Homo sapiens: one gene and its partner. The protein of the gene in region 1 purifies or fractionates together with the protein of each later gene. This does not show direct contact. Each region holds a gene or a part of one and is shown on either strand. Other genes may lie near its edges.

Region 1 (3,927 bases):
ACTCTGCACTCTGAAATCCACAGTAACTTATTAGCATAATGCCCCCACCTTTTAAAAAAGCATTCTTAATTTGCCTTTTATTGTTTCTTAATTATAGGTTTAGGAAGTTACAAGGGCAGTTGTGTTACATACACATATAGTGTAGTGGGGAAAGTGTTGGCTTTTAATGGACTCATTACCTAAATAATGTACCTTGTACTAAATAGGATTTTTTTTGGTTTTTTTTTGAGATGGAGTCTGGCTTTGTTGCTCCCCCGGCTGGAGTGCAATGGCATAATCTCGGCTCACTGCAACCTCCACCTCCCACATTCAAGCAATTTGCTCTGTTGCCCAGGCTGGAGTGCAATGGCACTATCTCAGCTCACTGCAACCTCCGCTTCTCAGGTTCAAGTAATTCTCCTGCCTCAGCCTCCCAAGTAGCTGGGACTACAGTGCCTGCCACCATGCCCAGCCAATTTTTCTATTTTTAGTAGAGACAGGGTTTCGCCATGTCAGCCAGACTGGTCTCAAACTCTTGACATCATGTGATCTGCCCGCCTTGGCCTTGCAAAGTGCTGGGATTACAGGTGTGAGTGCCTGGCTTATTTTTAATTCTGTGTATGTGATGAATCATGTATTGAGTTGCATATGTTGAGCCATCCTTACACCCCAGGAATAAAATCCACTTGACTGTGCTGTTACTATCTTTTTTATGTACTGTTTGATTTGGTTTGCTAGTATTTTGCTGAAGATTTTTGTGTCTATTTTCATCAGGGATATTGGCTTGTAGTTTTTTTGTGTGTTTTATCCTTGCCTGGCTTCAGTATCAGGATGATACTGGCTTTGTAGAATGAGTTAGGGAGGATTCCCTCCTATAATTTTTGGAATAGTTTCAATAGTGCTGTTACTAGTTCTTCCTTGCATGTCTAGTAGAATTCAGCTGTGAATCTGTCTGGTCCTGGGCTTTTTGTTTTTGCAAGATTTTTTTCTATTACTGATTCAATTTCAATACTCAGTAGTCTGTTGAGGATTCCTATTTCTCCCTGGTTCAATCTTGGAAGGTTATGTGTTTCTAGGAATTTATCCACTTCCTCTAGGTTTTCTAATATGTGCATATAGTTTCTGCTGATATTTTATATGTCTGTGTTATCAGTTATAATATCACCTTATCATTTCTGATTGTATTTATTTGAATCTTCTTTTTTTCTTGGTTAATCTAGCTAGTGGTCTGTCAGTTTTATCTTTGCAAAGAACCAACTTTTTCTTTTATTGATCTTTTGCATTCCTTTGTTCTCAGTCTCATTTTTGCCTGCTCTGATATTTGTTATTGCTTTTCTTCTGCCAGCTTTGGGTTGAGTTTGTTTTGTTTTTTCCTAGTTCCTTGAGATGTGACGTTAGGCTATTCATTTGAGATTTTTCTATCTTTTTGGTGTAGGCATTTAATGCTATAAAATCCTCTCTTAGCACTGCTTTTGCTGTATCTCAGATGTTTTCATGTGTTTTGTCTCTATTTTCATTTATTTCAAAAAATTTTAAATTTCCACCTTAGTTTCATCATTGATCCAAAAATCATTCAGGAGCAAGCTGTTTAAATTCCATGTATCTGTTTTGAGAGTTCCTCTTGGTATTGATATCTAGTTTTATTCCACTATGGTCAGAGAAGATGTTAGATATGATTTTGTTTTTTTAAAATTTATTGATACTTGCTTTGTGGTCCAGTATATGACCTATTTTTGAGAATGTTCCATGCACAGAAGAGAAGAGTATATATTCTGTGGTTGTTGGGTAGAATGTTCTTCAGATGTCTGTTGGGTCCATTTGGTGTAGAGTCCAATTTAAGTCCAGAGTTTCTTTGTTGATTTCTGTCCCAGTGATCTGTCTAGTGCTGTCAATGGAGTGGTGAAGTCCCCTGCTATTGTTGTATTGCTGTCTATCTCTTTTCTTAGGTCTAGTAGTATCTGTGTTATGGATCTGGGTGTTGCAGTGTTGGGTGCATACATATTTAGGATTGTTTTATCTTCTTGTTGAATTTATCCTTTATCATTATAAATGACCTTCTTTGTCCTTTTTAATTTTTGTTGGTATAAAGTCTGTTTTGGCCATCACGGTGGCTCACGTCTGTAATCCCAGCACTTTGGGAGGCTGAGGCGGGCAGATCACTTGAAGTCAGGAGTTCAAGACCAGCCTGGCCAACATGGTGAAACCCCGTCGCTACTAAAAATACAAAAAAAAAAAAAAAAAAAATTAGCCGGGCATGGTGGCGCATGCCTGTAATCCCAACTACTTGAGAGGCTGAGGCACAAGAATCGCTTGAACTCAGGAGCTGGAGGTTGCAGTGAGCTGAGATCACACCACTGCACTCCAGCCTGGGCAACAGAGCGAGACTCTGTCTCAAAATAAAATAAAATAAAATAAATTTGACTAACAACTTATGTATAAAAGGAAATTACAAATATATTAGACAAAATCATTCTAACAGGGTATTATGGGTTGAACTGTATCCCCTAAAAAGATATGCTGAAGTCCTAACCCCTGGTACCGGTAAATGTGACCTTACTTGGAAACAGGGTCTTGGCAGATATAATCAAGTTAAGATGAGGTCACCAGGTAACCCCAATCTAACCTGACTGGTGTCCAAATAAAAGACATACACAGAGATACACAGCGAGAATGCAATGTGAAGATGGAGGCAGAGATTGGAATGGTGTATGTAAAAGCCATGGAATGCCAAGGACTGCCAGCTGTTAACAGAGGTTAGGAAAAAGGCATAGAACAGATCCTCAGAGTCCTCAGAAGGAACCAAAACGATCAGCACCCTTGAGTTTAGATTTCCAGGCTCTAAACTATGAGAGAATAAATTTCTCTTGTTTTAAGCCACCAAGGTTTTGGTACTTGGTACTTTGTTATCGTATCGTTTAAAAACGAATACATAGGAGAACCTTTGATAATATGTATCCTAATTTGTTCTCCTTACCTGTTTTAAAAAAATTATTATAAAGGTTAACAAAATGGTCTTACTTTACTGTCATTCAACCAGTATGAATTCCCTCATGGCGAATGAGGTCAGAGCGACTACCAAAAGCCTTTCCACATTCCTTACAGTCATAGGGTTTCTCACCAGTGTGAATTCTCTGATGTCGAGTAAGATTTGAGCCTTTATTAAAGGCCTTCCCACATTCATTACATTCATATGGTTTTTCATCTGTATGGATTCTCTGATGTTGAATAAGTTCTGAGCTCTGAATAAAGGCCTTTCTACATTCTTCACATTCATAGAGCTTCTCACCAGCATGAATTCTGTGATGGTTAGTAAGTGTTGAGGCACTATTAAAGGCCTTCCCACACTGCTTACATTCATAAGGTTTCTCACCAGTATGCATTCTCTGATGCTGAATAAGCCTTGAGTGTTGAGTAAAGGCTTTCCCACATTCTTTACATTCATAAGGTTTCTCACCAGTATGAATTCTCAGATGTAGAAAAAGTTGTGAACTTTTAGTAAAGGCTTTTCCACATACTTTACATTCATAGGGTTTCTCACCAGTGTGAATTCTCTGATGATCATTAAGGTTTGAGCAATACTTAAAGGCTTTTCCACATTCCTTACATTCATAGGGTTTCTCACCAGTGTGAATCCTCTGATGTTGAGAAAAATATGAACTACAACTAAAAGCCTTGCCACATTCCTTACATTCATAGGGTTTTTTACCAGTGTGAATCCTCTGATGTCGAGTAACGAGTGAGCCACGACTAAAGGACTTCCCATACTCCTTAGATTCATAGTGTTTTTCACCAAAATGAATTCTCTGATGTTGGATAAATTGTGAGTTTTGATTAAAGGTCTTTCCACATATCTTACATTCCCATGGTTTCTCTTCACTCATAGTTTTTTGAGGTGGAATAAGAAATGTGGGCTGAATAAAAGTAGACATGTCTTCACGGGTAATTATT
Region 2 (3,927 bases), on another chromosome or scaffold:
CCCTTCATTTCTGTCCAGGACTTGGAAGTGATGGAATTTGGCTGGAATGTGCAGCACTCACTGTGGTTTTTGTCTCTAAATAAGGAGGGGACAGTCAGGTAGCCACCCATATTTGCTTATTTGATTAATATTATGGGTGTTTAGGTCAGAAAAAAATGAATTTATCTACTAGCTTTGTGACCTTGGGCAAGTTATTTCACCTCTTAAAATCTCAATTTCCTCATCTGTAATATGGAGACAATAGGATGCTGACTCTGTAGGGTTGTCATGAATATTAAATGAAAGTTTATGTTATTAAGTGCAAAAACCTTAACACACTTCTGAGCACAAAGTAGAAACTCAGTAAATGCAAAAGCATCCTGGTCATCATCATCATCATCATCATCATCAAAGCAAAGGTCTAATGGAAGAAATGGAAAAGATAGGTTTGGATAGGGGAAAACCAACTCTAGGAAGATCTTTTCCTAGAAAAGTTTACCAGTCCAGCCGGGTGCGGTCACTCACGCCTCTAATCCCAGTACTTTGGGAGGCCAAAGCAGGTGGATCACCTGAGGTCAGGAGTTTGAGACCAGCTTGGCCAACATAGTGAAACCTCATCTTTACTAAAAGTACAAAAAAATTAGCTGGGCATGGTGGCTCACACCTGTAATCCCAGCTACTCAGGAGGCTGAGACAGGAGAATCCCTTGAACCCAGGAGATGAAGGTTGTGGTGAGCCAAGATCATGCCATCGCACTCTAGCCTGGGCAACAAGAGTGAAACTCCATCTCAAAAAATAAAAAAAAAAAGAAAGAAAAGCTTGCCAGTCCAAAGATGATTTAAAGTTTATTAAAGTCAGATTTTCGTATTCTGCAAATATTTGTGGCTTTTGGTATAGACATTCTAATCAATTATTTCTTTATATGAAATAATTTGAACTTGGCTACTTCTCTTTCCAAAATTTACTCTTAAAGTTTTTTTTCAGCTTGGTTTTGGTAAACATGGTCATATGATGTTATTTTTCACAAAGATAGAGTTGCTGCCCTCCTGAGTCAGCCCCATCCCCTGTCTAGTCCATAATTCTCTTGCCATTAGAGGGTCTAGTGGTGTGGTGGAATGAGCATGGCGAGCTGTGGCCAGGCCACTTAGCAGCCACTAGTGGCACTGTCATTTACCACATTTTAAATTATACTCTGTCTTGTGAATAATGTGCTCAGAATGTGGATTCTCTACTTGGATTTAAATTCTTGTTCTTCTGTTAATACTTACCATGACACTGAATCCTATCATCCTAGGAAAGTTATTAACATTTTTGTGCCACAATTTTCTCATTCACAAAATGGGAATCATAAGAGTTGTTATAAAAATAAACGAGTTAATGCATTTCAAGTGCTCAGAACAGTGGTTGGCACATAGTATGTGCTCAACCAATGGGAGTTGTTTCTCTTTTTCTTACTAGTTTCTTGCTTATGCCTCCTTTGGAGTAGGAATTTTGTGTGTTTTTCTGCTATATAATGAAAGTGGTACTTTCTTTTTATCTATTCAAGCCACTTTGTGTTATTTTGGTTTTTTTAAATATTAAAAATAGTAAAAATATTAAAACATAAAAAGGCTGCATGTGGTGGCCCACACCTGTAATCCCAGCACTTTAGGAGGTGGAGGCGGGTGGATCACCTGAGGTCAGGAGTTCAAGACCAGCCTGGCCAACATGGTGAAACCATGTATGTAAAAATACAAAAAATTAGCCAGGGGTGGTGGCGGACGCCTGTAATCATAGCTACTTGGGAGGCTGATGCAGGAAAATCACTTGAACCTGGGAGGTGGAGGTTGCAGTGATCTGAGATCGTGCCATTGCACCCCAGACTGGGTGACAGAGTGAGACTCTGTCTCAAAAAAAGCAAAACGAAACAAAACCAAAAAAAAAAAAACATAAATAGAGACAGGGTCTCACTATGTTGCCCAGGCTGGTCTCAAACTCCTAGGCTCAAGCAGTCCTCCCGCCTTGGCCTCCCAAGTGCTAGGATTACGGGTGTGAGCCACCACATGTGGCCATACTTTTTGTTATTTTGATTAGAAGTGGGTCCTTAGCTAAAGGTCAAAAGCAGTGAATTATTTCCATTGAGTTCTTTGTTTAAGAACCTGTATTTTTTTTTAAAAAAAGCAGTGAATTAAAAATTATCACCATTGAACTGAATTGAACTCCACATCTAGAAACAAGCATTAATGCTCCCTGCAGGAGAGCCAAATTCAAGCAGTAGATGGGTCTCATAATCCTGTGAAAATCAGCTCGCCTTGTTTCAGTTGGAGGAAAAGTGTAGCCAGTGTCAAGGGCAGAGCATCCTCATTGGGCAGGCAGAGATCTACCTCTGAGTGAAGGCCAGCAGGCTCAAGTTTCAGAACTATAGACAATCCCTTAGTTTTTCTGTACTCAGTGGACCTTTCCCTTCTATAAAGAGAAAACAACTAACTCCCTGTTTATATCACTAGAATGTTGTAAGGATAAACTATTGTTATCTGGAGCGTTTTTCTTTTTTCTTCAGAAAAAGAACAATCATTTAAAATGTTATTTGAAAGCATTCTGGAACTGTAGAGTGTTAGTCTTCGTAACTTAAAATTGATTCTAGTTTCCAGTCTTTTGTGGCTGGTTTGGTGCTTAGAACTCTAAACAGGTTTAATTATTTTCTAGCATAAAGAACATAGCCAGGTAAGTCTATTTTTGTTTTATGTAATGTTAGATTTAAACTGGTTAGTACTGAGTTTTCCCTCTTATTTTCCTTATACTAAAGGAAAGAGTTTTAATTTTTAGGTTTATTTTATTTCACCAGTGATAAACCAGTAATTTAAAAGTAAGTCTGCCACTAGCTGTGAGCTTCTTGGGAAGTTAGTTTACCCCGATAACTTCTGTTGTATGATCTGTGACCTATCTCTTAACATTGTTTTTGAGAGTTATAAATATATATTTTTTAAAAATGACTAGCCTAGTACCTGGCAGATAACAGAAACTCAGTAAATAGTACCTCTGAAAGCATGCCACAGTCAAAGGATAGTAGACTTTGGTGTTGGGCAGACTTAGTTTCAAATCTGCCTCTGCCATTGGGATAGATTTTTAACCTCTTTAAGTCTCAGTTTCTTCACCTGTAAAATGGAGGCAATTACACTTCTCTTATGGAGCTGTAGGAGGATTGGATGTTATCTATGTAAAGCACCCAGCACAGGGCTTGGCTCAAAGCAAGTGCTGGATAGAGGAAAGGTGGTGGTCAGTAGCAGGGGCAATACTGGCAGTGATAGTTGTAATTATTGTTGTCTTTATAGTAATGGTAGTAGTATTAATACATACATTGTTACTTTGTGAGTGGAGTAAAAACTTCAGAGGCCCAGAAGTCGTAACCAGGTCTGTTAAGCTTTGAAGTACCTTTGAGTATTTGGATGTTCATGTTGGTCTCTAAAAGGGAGACCCTTCATGCGCTCTCAGTGCCTTAAAAGTCTTAATATATCTCACTGAGGAAGCCAAGGCTAAACTTTCTACTTGACATTACAGGAGTTTTTCCCAAAGGGATTTTGGAGTCTGAGTTTAGCATACGATAATCATTTGCCACTTATCTCTGTCATTGAATTACTTTATCCCCCCTCTATTTCCACACTTTCCATCACAATCTACTCTCCATAATCAAGTGGCAGTGACATAAACCCTTTTGGGGACCTTTAGTAAGACCTTCGAAACTTGAGTTCACTTCTTTTTTCTTCTTTAGCTCTTTTTTAAAAAAATATTGGGCCAGGTGTGGTGGCTCACACCTGTAATCCCAGCACTTTGGGAGGCCAAAGTGGGCGGATCACAAGGTCAGGAGATCCAGACCATCCTGGTCAACATGGTGAAACCCCGTCTCTACTAAAAATACAAAGATTAGCTGGGCGTGGTGGCATACGCCTGTAATCCCGTCTACTTGGGAGG

The links.
Region 2: the proteins of ZNF829 (region 1) and CRYBG1 purify together in Homo sapiens (affinity purification with mass spectrometry; 3 studies listed by BioGRID and IntAct, with this or other methods). This does not show direct contact.

The regions. Positions count from the first base shown.
Region 1 is NC_000019.10:36,888,484-36,892,410, forward strand, and holds part of ZNF829 (zinc finger protein 829), read right to left. Parts: coding exon 3,009-3,927; 3' UTR 1-3,008. UniProt on the Homo sapiens protein: May be involved in transcriptional regulation.
Region 2 is NC_000006.12:106,363,559-106,367,485, forward strand, and holds part of CRYBG1 (beta/gamma crystallin domain-containing protein 1), read left to right. Parts: intron 1-3,927. UniProt on the Homo sapiens protein: May function as suppressor of malignant melanoma. It may exert its effects through interactions with the cytoskeleton.